Linked DNA regions of Homo sapiens: all the other regions are reported to be linked to region 1. Evidence: microRNA targets listed by miRTarBase, many of them from high-throughput screens and not tested one by one. Region 1 holds a microRNA gene; each other region holds the end of a gene's coding sequence.

What was found. The annotated mature microRNA hsa-miR-4640-5p reads UGGGCCAGGGAGCAGCUGGUGGG and lies in region 1 at 1,699-1,721, opposite strand. An mRNA with a match to its seed (bases 2 to 7 or 8) in the 3' UTR can be bound and repressed. Matches are read on the target gene's strand: a 7mer-m8 pairs with bases 2 to 8, a 7mer-A1 pairs with bases 2 to 7 and ends in A, and an 8mer does both.
Region 2: the mRNA of RALBP1 is a reported target of hsa-miR-4640-5p. Seed matches in the 3' UTR shown: 8mer at 866-873.
Region 3: the mRNA of MRPS23 is a reported target of hsa-miR-4640-5p. Seed matches in the 3' UTR shown: 7mer-A1 at 946-952.
Region 4: the mRNA of EEPD1 is a reported target of hsa-miR-4640-5p. Seed matches in the 3' UTR shown: 7mer-m8 at 2,434-2,440 and 7mer-A1 at 2,467-2,473.

What each region holds. Positions count from the first base shown.
Region 1 is chr6:30,889,499-30,892,611 of GRCh38, reverse strand. MIR4640 (microRNA 4640) reads right to left here and starts at 1,729; the gene lies at 1,640-1,729. It overlaps DDR1 (discoidin domain receptor tyrosine kinase 1), which reads right to left. Exons shown (of 18, transcript NM_001297654.2): 5 at 1,492-1,639; 6 at 1,133-1,232; 7 at 424-610; 8 at 70-316.
Region 2 is chr18:9,535,617-9,538,729 of GRCh38, forward strand. It overlaps RALBP1 (ralA binding protein 1), which reads left to right. Exons shown (of 10, transcript NM_006788.4): 10 at 55-2,498. The coding sequence ends at 321. Among named protein-coding and RNA genes, the nearest start is that of RALBP1, 62 kb to the left of the region's middle.
Region 3 is chr17:57,837,288-57,840,400 of GRCh38, forward strand. MRPS23 (mitochondrial ribosomal protein S23) reads right to left here. Exons shown (of 5, transcript NM_016070.4): 5 at 1-2,648. The coding sequence ends at 2,496. Among named protein-coding and RNA genes, the nearest start is that of MRPS23, 11 kb to the right of the region's middle.
Region 4 is chr7:36,298,762-36,301,761 of GRCh38, forward strand. EEPD1 (endonuclease/exonuclease/phosphatase family domain containing 1) reads left to right here. Exons shown (of 8, transcript NM_030636.3): 8 at 246-2,777. The coding sequence ends at 445. Among named protein-coding and RNA genes, the nearest start is that of MATCAP2, 67 kb to the right of the region's middle.

The sequences.
Region 1 (3,113 bases):
ACTGCAGGGTTAGGAATGAAATCAGTTGTCAATTTCAGGGACTGGAGACTGGGCTACTCCAGGGCTTACCAGAGATGAAGGAGATTTCGCTGAAGAGTAACCAGGGCCCCGCAAAGAGGAAGCGGCACTGCAGAAAGCGAGCCACACGGCCGCCAAGGGGCACTGAGACAGCCCGGGCTCTGGGGTCCCCCAGGTTGCCCCCTAGGTTGTGGCGCATGGGCTCCCCCTCCCAGGCCATGGCAGGGCCACGCCGGAAGCGACATTCCACCCCGCCAGGCAGACGGGCTCCCAGCGTGTGCATGTTGTTACAGTGGACCTGGGGGGAAGGGAAGAGGGCACAGGGTCAAGGCTAGGAGTGGTGGGGGCACCCCAACGGCACCCTGCATGGCTTCAGAGCCCTCCTCGAGAGCCGGACTCACTCACCTGCATAGCCTGGAAGGCCCTCAGCCGGTCAAACTCAAACTCCATCTCCACATAGCCACTGGAGAAGCTGTGGTTGCTCCATCCCACATAGTCATAGCCTGGCCAGACCCGCAGCTCCTGACTCTTCCTAAAGTCATCCAGCCCCACCACACCATCTGCCAGCTGGCCCAGACCCCCATACTGCAGTCTGGAGAAGAGGGGACCAAGGAAGAGGAGGTTGGAAGGGAAGAGGGTCTTGACATCCAGGCATTCTGCTCCGCCACCCTCCGGCACAGTGGCATGGCCAGCCTGGCTCCCATCCACTAGTCCCATTCCCATCCCACCTCACACTCATGCAGCTGGCCCTTCTCCTCTCTCCACCCCACCCCAGCACTACAGGTACCTTGCAGGTCACATCCAGCACAAAGGCACCACCTCTAAGGGGCACCATTTCAATCTATGATGTGTATATTTATTGCAGCAATTTCCAACAATGTGTGTTAGCAAAGGGGTGCCTTTTTCATACAGTGTCATACGGGCTAGTGGTCACCCTAGTGCTACCCTTTGAGGCCCCACCTAACCCATCCCTCTTCTCAGCTCTTCCATCTCACTCCCCACCCTACTTACCAGCCCCCCTACACACACACACTCTCACACACACACACACACACACACACACACAGTCCTCCCTCCCACCCCAAACTCCATATCCTGCAGGGGCCTTTCTTACCCGCCCACGGTATGTCCGTCATAGGTGGAGTCGTTGAGGTACACGGCCTCAGATAAATACATTGTCTGCCCCACAGGGGCGGTGTAAGACAGGAGTCCATCTGGGGCAGGGTGAGAGGATGGGGGTCAGAGGCACTAAGGCTCCATCCCCCATCCCTGCATCAGGCCTGGGCAGGTTTCAGGTCCCTTCTTGTATCTCTCCACTGGCTCATTGGCATGGAGGAGACAATGCTGGCTAGCCCCCTCCTCAGAGTGACAGCTTCCCAGCAGGAGAAGGGATCCTGGATGCCCATTCTCCACACTCCCCACCCTCCAGTCCCCTGCTCAGGAAACAGATTCCCAGGAAGCTGAGCCACTCACCCCTCCAGAGGCAGCCATAGAGCTCTACCCGCAGACAGACGCTCATGACCCGGTCAGCCCGGGGGTAGAAGCGAACCAGTCGGGCAACCATGGGGGGCCCAAGGTCCTTCAGCACCACTCCCTCAGGGTCCTCATTGCCTGAGATCACCTGTGGGCCAGGAAACAGGGGGTGGGTGGGATGGAGTCCAGGTCAGATCTTACTTCCCACCCACCAGCTGCTCCCTGGCCCAGCCCACAGTGGCCACTTAGAGACCCATGAGGGGTGGCACCGAGCACACAGCACTGTGGGGCGCAGCCAGGCATGGGTGAAATGAAGATCTGCAGCTGAGACCTCTGGCTCTGTCGCAGCTCTGATGTTCCATCCTCAGACTTCAGGCTCAGCTGCCCTCTTCTCCTTGCCTGGCTCCATCCATTTGTCTCCAAGCCTATCATCCCATTGTGCCCAGATTCTCCCCAATCCTCACAGCCCTGCACCCCTGCCTCAGCTTCCCCTTCATTTCAGCCCATTCCCTCTGTTCATTCAGCAGAAGTTGGCTGAGTGCCCGCTCTGTGCCAGGCGCGTTCTCAGTGGTGAACGTCACTCCCCACCCTTGTAGGACTGAGATCCCAGCAGGGAAAACAGCTGCGAAGAACAAGAGGCAGGAAGTATGGACAGAGCAGTGAGGTGGGTGGCCAGAAAAGGCTCTCTAAGGAGGTGACACCTGGCAGAGAACTGAATGGAGTGAGGGAGAGCCTGTGGTTATTTAGGGGAGGAGCTTTGCAGGCACAGAGAAAATGTCCAGAAGCTGTGGGAACGAGCCCTGGCTTGTTCCAGCAACAAGAAGAAAGGCAGCGTGGCCAAGGAGGCGCCAAGAAACAAGTGATGCAGGCAGGAGCCAGGTCAGGCTGAGCATCCTGCACCAGCTAGGGACTCAGCTTTTGTTCTGGCAGAGTGGAAAGCCAGCATGGGGGTGTCAGCTAGGTGTGACGTATCTGATTTACATGCTCTAAGGTCCACTGGATGCCGCCCCCCCAGGTGGAGATTTGACTCCAGGCAGAAAAGGGCAGAAGCAGGGAGACGCGTTTGGCATCTACTGCACTCATCTAAGCTGGAGATGGCGGGCAGGTGGCCTAGGGCAGTAGAGGTGGAGTGGTGAGGAGTGACTGGACTCAGGAACACTATGGAGGTAGAACAGACGGGGCTGCTGATGCTTTGGAAGGAGGTGAGAGAAAAAAAGGAATCAAGGATATCATCTTAACTTATAGCCTAGGCAACCAGGCAATGGTGATACCACTTCCTGAGCTGGAGAATGCCAGGGGAGGAGCAGGTTTAGGCTGGGAATGGGAATCAAATTCAGCTTGGGAAGTTAAACGTACGTTTGAGATGCCTATTAGACATCTAGGTGGCTGGCTACAGTGCTTGTAATCCCAGCACTTTGGGAGGCTAAGGTGGGAGGATCACTGAGCCCAGGAGTTCAAGACCAGCCTGGGCAACACAGCAAGACCCCATCTATTAGAAAAAAAAAAAAAGACATCTAAGTGGAGAAATCCAAAAGGTGGCCAGGTTTACAATATTGTTTGGAGCTCAGCTGAGAGGCTTAGTCTGGAGATGATATAAACTGGAGAGTCGTCAGCGTATAGGT
Region 2 (3,113 bases), not on the chromosome of region 1:
AAATCGTCCTCTGACTTCCTTAAGTGATAACTGCCCTTTCTGTCATTCCCCAAGATAAAGAACAATCATTTGAATCAAGCAATTCATGAGGAGCGCGAGGCCATCATCGAGCTGCGCGTGCAGCTGCGGCTGCTCCAGATGCAGCGAGCCAAGGCCGAGCAGCAGGCGCAGGAGGACGAGGAGCCTGAGTGGCGCGGGGGTGCCGTCCAGCCGCCCAGAGACGGCGTCCTTGAGCCAAAAGCAGCTAAAGAGCAGCCAAAGGCAGGCAAGGAGCCGGCAAAGCCATCGCCCAGCAGGGATAGGAAGGAGACGTCCATCTGAGCAGCCTGCGTGGCCGTCTGGAGTCCGTGAGACTGAAAGGACCCGTGCATCTTACTGTAACCCGGGGGCCAGGCCGGCTCTCTCGCTGTACATTCTGTAAAGGTGTCTTCTCTTCTCAGACTCTTCCTCTGTCACACGTCTGACTCCTTCACGTCAGGCTCAGGTTCCATGGGAGGACGAAGCAGTGGACGCATTGTGGGCTTTAGGGACAGATGAGTTTTCCAGATAGTGTCAGCTTATTTGAAGATTAATTTTCTTTGTTAACTTAAAATAACTATTTTAACCCTTGAGTGGCTTCTTTTTAAACCAAAAACCGTCTTTCTTTGCTTTTTTATCACAGCAGAATCAGGATCTCTTTCTCATTCAAGGGGGGAACCACCCCAGGTCAGCGCTGCGCCTGCTGTGGCCGCCGCGAGCCACGCCCTCTGGGATCTCTGGTACCGTCACTCTTGCTTGTGCCTTCCACACCTTCTCGGTGCAGATCCCTATGGGGGAGCTGCCTCACGTTCTCTGACTGGTCAGAGCAGCGCCTGGTGGGTGTTCCCTGGCCCACTCTCCTCTCTCCTTCTGCAGTTCTAAACCACAGTCTATAAGCCCGAGTCACCAGGACGGCCTGTCTGGCCACAGACAGGGGCTGCCTGTGGAGCCTGCCCACCGGCCCCCGGCAGTGCAGTCCAGCGGGGAGGAGGCTGCCCGTTCCTGCCAGTTCCTCACTGCGGGGACCAGCAAAGGCCTTCTCACTGGGTTGGTCAAAGGTAGTCACCTTGGCCTGGTGCATCCACAGAGGATGTTGTTCAAACCAGAAATCTTTTAAACGACTGACCTTCCTTAAAAACAGAATGACTCCGATTGCTTGCTTGGGCTAGAATGTACACGTCTCCTTGCCTGAATAAGCCATATATATGCTCTTAAACAAAAGTTTGAAATTATCCATATCATCTCAGTGAACCTACTGGTGGACTCCCAATTGACAAGATTGAGCAATAGAAAAAAATTCCTTTCCTTTGAATGATAGCTGTGATTCACCCCACCCCATTTTCTTGTTTCTGGTCCATCCGATGAGACGGATGCTCTGATGCTCTGAGGCTTCTGGGAGGCTGGGCCCTGGAGGCAACGTGCTGCAGGCGCACTCTGTCAGAGTGAACAGCACCGCGAGACAGGCCAGGCTCGTGGCTCGGAAGACAAACCCCACACACACTCAAGGGGTCGAAAACAAACCCCACACGAGGGCTCTCACCTCCTTCTCCTAGGTAGTATTTATTTTCAGCACCTGTTTGATGCAGTTTTTAATCCTCTACCTATTGCACTGTTGTGACTCGTTGGCCATTATTTGATTTTTGTACGAAAAAAAGCTTTGTTATAGAAATCAGCATACTATTTTTTTAAATCTGGAGAGAAGATATTCTGGTGACTGAAAGTATGGTCGGGTGTCAGATATAAATGTGCAAATGCCTTCTTGCTGTCCTGTCGGTCTCAGTACGTTCACTTTATAGCTGCTGGCAATATCGAAGGTTCCTTTTTTGTTTGTGTAAACTCTAATTTCTATCAAGGTGTCATGGATTTTTAAAATTAGTATTTCATTACAAATGTCTCAGCATTGGTTAACTAATTTTTGCCAGGACCATTATTGATCAAGCAAATAAATTCAACAGCCATTTGGGAAAAAGAAAAGCTTCTAGTTTTTTTGTACACATTCTTTCTGTGAGGAGATTGAGTACTCTGCAGCTGGCGAGGAGTTGGTTGAGGCACTTCTTCAAGGCCAAGGGGGAACACAGTGTTTTGTTTCCAGCTCACTTTGTACCCCTCACCTCTGCAGACACGGGGAGAACCCCGGACCCCTGGCATGCATGCTGGCGGCGGCATGCCTCCCTTCCACAAGCCCATGCTGCTGCAGAGGGAGCCTGTGTTTGCAAAACCCAGTGGACTGGGCTGGGTCTGCTGTCTGAGCAGCTCCTGGCTCCGGTGGGAACTGCACACAAGTCCACTGGCCTGGCTTGGCCCCAGGCATTGCAATTGACAGACATTTGCATTTCATACGGTAAATGAGGACTCAGCACAGCCAACCATAATCAGCATGTCTGGGATAGACTGGTCTAGAATAAAAATGAAGTTTCCATTGCTTTGTTTGCTTTAAAAATTCCACAATTAAAATATCTGTCATTGAAAGCTTAGACAAACAGCTGACTTCTCTGTTTTGTGTAGTTAAATCTATAATGTTAAATTTATATAGCTAAATTCTCCTTGATGGAAAGTCTCAAACGCCCTGATGGGGTACATTTAGCATTGGGGATCTGGAGATACTGAGGTGTGAGACCTGAGGTCACCTCCCAAGATGGGCTCTAGTGCTGTGTGATCTTTTTTTTTTTTCACTGCAGCTGTTTCTGTGAAGAGCACATTGCTTGTTATGTATTAGGATATCTTAAGAACAAACACACCTTCTGCGTCCAGCCAGGCTGAGCAAGATGCAGCCTGGGCTTTCTGGAGCTCTCGATGGGGACCCGTGCCCAATTCCATGTGTTCAGCCTCAGCCCTGGCCCATGGTTCTCATGAGGGATAGAAGGAAAAGCCGGAGTCAATTAGCAGGCAGAGGCTTCAGCATAAGATCCCACAGCTTTTAGGGAAGGTGGGCAGTGCCCCCTGGAATGTTCTAGACTAGATCCCAGGAGACCCAGGAGACGTGATAGCAAGCCTGGGCAGAGGAGGGGGCAGAAAGCCCTTAAATGCCACATGTAGGGGCTCTTTTGCAGAGCAGGAAGAGTACTGCTGCCCGTCACATGCCGGGTCCTCCGAAC
Region 3 (3,113 bases), not on the chromosome of region 1:
GTATAGTTAAGCACAATTTCTATGGACGAAGATATCAAAACTCAAAATGATCTGCTCCTTGATCCAGCATCCCATAACTCTAGCAGCCCATTTGCAACACAGTAAAACAAAGAACATTTTCTTCAATCGGGCACTGATTAAATCACAGTGGATCTCTGAGACATAGTAACTAGAAAAGCAAGGTACAGAACAGTATGCATAGTGTCCTGTCCATGCCCAAAATATTTCTGGAAGAGCGCACAAGGAAATGGTGATAGTGATGGCCTCAGGGAAGGGGAAAAGGGTGGCTGGGGAACAGGGGTGGGAGACTAGCTTTTTACTGTTAAGTTTTGAACCATGTGCATGTATAATTTTTTTAAAGAATTATGCAACAAATAACTTCTTTAAAAGTCTTCAGCCCCAGTACGGTCGCTCAGGCCTGTAATCCCAGCACTTTGGGCGGCTGAGGCAGGAGGATCGCTTGAGGCCAGGAGTTTGAGACCAGGCCAGCCTGGGCAACATAGCAAGACTCCATCTCTACAAAAAAAAACAAACAAAAAAAATGTTAAAGAGCCAGGCGTGGTGGCACATGCCTATAGTCCTAGCTATTCGGGAAGTGAGCCAGGATGGCTTCAGCCCAGGAGTTAAGACTGCGGCAGGGTATGCACCACTGCACCCAGCCTGGGTAACACAGTGAGACCCCCATCTCCTAAAACAAAATTAAAAAAAAAAAAAATTAAGGCCAGGCATGGTGGCTAACACCCGTAATCCCAGCATTTTGGGAGGTTGAGATGGGTGGATCACTTGAGGCCAGCAGTTTGAGATCAGCCTGGGCAACATGGTTAAAAGCCCGTTTCTACTAAAAATACAAAAATTAGCCGGGCGTCATAGCATACACCTGTAATCCCAGCTACTTGGGAGGCTGAGGCAGAAGAACTGCTTGAACCTGGGAGGCGGAGGTTGCAGTGGGCCAAGATGGCTCCACTGTACTCCAGCCTGGGAAACAAAGTGATACTCCATCGCAAAAAAAAAAAAAAAAAAAAAAAAAAAATTAAAAATCTACAGAGGAGGAAAACAAACAAAAATAGCAAAAATGGGACATCAATCCAGACATGAAGGAAAAAAACATTTTTTAAATATTCATCATTGTGGCAAAAAAAACCTGCCCTTAAAAAACCAGAAACCTAAGGTTTAAAGAGATGAGTGACCCCTCAATTGTTCCTCTGAGAATAGACTGTGTCTTTCACCTGCTTTTTAAGTCCTCTTCCCAAGGTCTGGCCCGATGTTTGGTCTCAATGGTTGTGTAATGTCTCTGAATGGATGAAATTTACTTCCCTACGGAAAAGTAAAGCATTCTCCAAATGCAAGCAGTTGTGAAACAGTGATAAAGGTCGAGGGGGAAGCAGCATGGCTGAGAGCTGCTTTTGCCTAATGTATTCATTCACCTGCATGAACCAAGCACCCACGTGCATGGATGTGTACTATATACAGACTGTGAGATGTGGACCTGCCTCACAGTGTACCAGGAGAGATGAGAGCATACACAAAGAATCACTGGGTAGAAAATCTACATGAGTTTTAAAATAGGGAATTTCTGAAGCAGCTTACTACTAACAGCTAAAAACCACTGGCTTGACCACATATACAAAGGCTGCAATCTCAGAGGGATATTTCATGTATTTAGTAAAACCTGGGGAAACGAGGAAGGCAGGGAAGTTGATAAGGACTTGTAGGCACACTTTGGCCCCAGGGAGGCAGGTGGATGCTGGTGGAGAGCATCACCTAAATTAGCTGCCTCCTTTCTTGGCAATCCTGTTATCTACACCATATGAATCCAGTCTTTAGCTGGATATAACCATTCGTTCACTCATTCATTCAACAAGTATTTACTGAACAGCCTAGTCTGTGCAGGCCTATGTTAACTGTCTCCAGCACACTCAATCCATGACATTAAAGTTACAGTTTTGGTCTTTGTGTATCAGCAATGACAGGTCCTCACTCTTACCACAAAGCGCAAGTCAGCTTGGCCTCTCAAGTGGAGAGATAATCGTTCTATAGCAAGAAGTACAAAGATTCTCTGCAGACAAAACCAGCTAGCCAAGGTTCCACAACATGTGTACACGTATAAGTCTGATGGATCAGAAGAAATATGTACCCGGGAATCAGATGTAGCCAGCCCACATACTAACAAACATCAAAGCAAGCCTAGTCAGATTGAGTCCCATTTGAACAATCTTTATAAAGGTTTCTTCATGTTATTTACAATTCAAAGTAAATTTACTTTATAAGCAGCTAGGGAATTCTTTATTTAGTAATGTCCTAACATAAAAGTTCACATAACTGCTTCTGTCAAACCATGATACTGAGCTTTGTGACAACCCAGAAATAACTAAGAGAAGGCAAACATAATACCTTAGAGATCAAGAAACATTTACACAGTTCAACTGTTTAAAAATAGCTCAACATTCAGCCAGTGAGTAGAGTGTGAATGCCAGCATACACAGTATACAGGTCCTTCAGGGAGGCAAGAGACCTTTCGACTGGTCTGCAGGTGCCTCCAAATGCTGGTCCTGTGGAACTTCTTTCTGAGTCTCGTTTTCTTCCAACGCAGTCTGTGGTCTGACACTCAAGTGTTCGGATTTCCGGGAAACGTGACTACCTCCGTGTTGCTTAAAAGACCAGATTTAAGTATCACAGAGATGTTATCATTTTCACTCAATTAATTCGCTAAAGATATATAACTAGGCACATTCTGTCACTGAGTGAAAAATTTAGCACTAATATCTTAGATCCAATTCTACTATAACAAATAGTAAACATGATTTTAAAAAGTCTATAGGGCCGGGCGTGGTGGCTCACGCCTGTAATCCCAGCACTTTGGGAGGCTGAGGCGGGCGGATCACGAGGTCAGGAGATCAAGACCATCCTGGCTAACACGGTGAAACCCCGTCTCTTCTAAAGCTACAAAAAATTAGCTGAGCATGGTGGCAGGCGCCTGTGGTCCCAGCTACTCGGGAGGCTGAGGCAGGAGAATGGCATGAACCTAGGAGGCAGAGCTTGCAGTGAGCCAAGACTGCGCCACTGCACTCCAGCCTGGGTGACAGAGCGAGACTCCGTCTCAAAAAAAAAAAAAA
Region 4 (3,000 bases), not on the chromosome of region 1:
AGGCCTGGCCTCTGGGTGTTTTCACTGCCTAAATGCAGAAACTCTCCTTTATGTGGAAAATCAAACTGGCCGAGACCTTTAATATGCACAGGCAAATGCACAGGCACCTTCCAGCTACCTGAGGCAGCCTCTCCGGGCACCCCGGCCTGCAGACATGCGGTGTGACCCTCCACCTGCCAATCCAGGACCTCCCGCACCCAACCCCCCATCCTGATTCCCGGTCTCTTTCCTTCCTCTCCCTTCAGGTCACTGGGCTGTGGTGAGAGAAGGCCTCACGAACCCTTGGATTCCGGATAACTGGTCTTGGGGCGGGGTGGCTTCTGAACACTGCCCAGTGCTAGCCGAGTTCTACACTGAAAAGGACTGGAGCAAGAAGGATGCCCCTCGGAACGGCAGCGGGGTGGCCTTGGAGCGAAGTGAAGCCAACATCAAGCACGAGCGATGATGACACCAAATCCATGTGTCCACCCTGGGACCCAGGAGGGCACAGCCAAGGAATGAGCCCTGTGGGGTGACGCTTCAGGGCAGAGCTGCCTTTTAATTTTTATTCTCAGAGCATCAGCACTTGAGGCCTTGCCCCACGCCTTCTCTGTGGACCATTCAGGACCTCCAGTGGGGGTGGCGTGCCAGGCGCGTACCCCACCAGGTGGGCAAAGCAGAAACCTGCGGGGAGCGGAGACGCCTTTTATCTCTGGATGCCACAGACCTGAGCAGCATTGGGCTGGCTGTCCGCTGCTGACTGGATGGCAGCACAAAGACAATATGAGCAGAGGGAGGAGAAGAAGGGGTGCTCAGGCTGCGGGCCACAGTCCAGCAGCGCCAGAAGCACTCATTTCTGACCACCAGGCTATGACGTTCCTGCTGCGCATTACAGAAAGCTTTTAACTGTGATCAGGCACTCTGCTCAGATACATTGAGTGGCGATTTTTAGTTTTGTTTTGAAAAAATAAACAGATTAACCTGCCTCGCTGCAGTGAGAGCATGGGACAAGTCCGCCACAGCCCTCCCCCGCCCCCTTCCCCCGCCCCCCAACGCGCAGTGTGTATTTGCACCACGGCAGGTGCCTCTGTGTGGAGCTAGGGTCAAGCCCTGAGCAGCTTCACTTCCCCTGCGCCTTTTATGTCCCCACCTTGAGGCCTTGCAGAGGCGCCTCTCAAGGCCCCATCAGCTCGCCGGGACCTCTGTGAAGCCTCTCTGTCATCTCCCCTTCCCAGCCCCTCCTTCATCCCCTGCCTCCTTCACCAGCCTGGCTTTTGCCTGGAGCACTATTTGTTTAGTTCTCTTTGCAGGACAAGAATTCTCTCAGGGTGGTATCACCTCCTCCCTCCTCCCCACTCACTCCAGTTTTTAGCCCGGAGCCTCCTGTGGTTGACTATCAGGAATGTGTGCTGTGTCAGGATACATAGGAAGTTGACCTCGGGGTATCATGGAGAGTGTCCCTCCTAGTGGCTGGAGGTAGGGACAGTTGGTTGTGGGGCTGGAGAGAGGTTGTGGGGAGGAAGCGAGGATGCGTGCCTGCCACTAGGCATCTGCATCCCCGAGCCCAAGCCAGGAGGGATTTCCCTTAGGCAACACCATCCCAGGGAGATCTGCCACAATTTGCGTTTCACAGCTGAAGACGCTGAGGCTTAGAGAGCTCGACCTCCTCAAGGTCACACCACTGGGTAAATAGAGGGATGCAGACTCAGGTTTTGCTATGTGCTCACATTTCAACTTTATGCTTAACATGAATGGAAAAATATGAAAGTAAATAGTGAAAAGGTAAGTTATGAGCTTAGATTACCTAGATTATTCCAGTATCCCATGGAAGCTGAGGACTTATTCCGCTTTCCACACCGAACACTAAATGTGGACCAGTATCAAGAACCCTCCTGTCCCCACGCAGTGTAAACCCAGTGGCTTCTCTGACCTGGAGCTGATGGGCCGTGAAGGGGGCCTATTTTTCTCCAAAGGCCATCCTTTTGGGGCCACCTGGCTCCAAGAAGCATCGCTGGTCTTGGGGACGGGAAGGGAACCCTCTTCCAGGAGCTCTAAGGGTACTTGGGAATCAATTGTGTCCATTCTGAGGTCTCTCCAGTGGGAGGGCGGCAGCTCCTGTCCCTGGGTTCAGGCTGTGCTTCTGGAAGCATCGAAATGGGATGTCTGAGCCTTGAGGAAAAGCAGCAGGGTTAGCATTAAAGTCAAGAGGGGCAGCTCAGGATGCTACCAGGGAGCACATCGTTTCTGGTGCCTCATCTAAAGGTGAAACCTCCCCTACATTCACCAGCCGGATGTCCCAAATCCCTTTAGCCAGATTGCTTTTTGCAACCAAAGCTGTGGACAGAAAAGCCTCCTTAAGTGAGCTGAGGGGACAGGAAATCCAATCAGATGACCTTTGTGTTCGTAATCGGGCTTGAGCCAGAGGCTGGGGAGCTGAGTCCCAGCCAAACCTCACTGGCCCTTTTGCTTTTCACGCCCAGGGCTCAGTGGCCCAGGAAGTGTGCTGGGCAGCCTGTTCTTACTCCAGCTCAACCCATTGGGTGTTGGCTGTTTTTGGTTTTAGTTGTTGTTTTGTATTTTGTTGTTTTAATTAATAGGCTTTATTTGTAAGAGCAGTTTTATGTTTACAGAAAAATTAGGCACAAAGGGATTCCCATATCCCTCCTCTTCTTTGCATATTTCCCCCTCTAATTAGCATGTTGCATTAGCATGGCACTTTGTTACAACTGATGAACTTGTATTCATTATTAGCTACAGTGTTCATAGTTTATATTAAAGTTCACTCTTTGTGTTGTGCATCCTATGGGTTTTGACAAATGTAGAATGACATGTATCACCATGCTACAGAATCATTCAGAATAGTTCCTCTGATGTAAAAATGCCCTTGTGGTGGGGCATGGTGGCTCGAGCCCGTAATCCCAGCACTTTGGGAGGTGGAGGCGGGCAGATCATTTGAGGTCAGGAGTTCGAGACCAGCTTGACCAACATGGTGAAACCCCATCTCTACTAAAAGTACAAAAT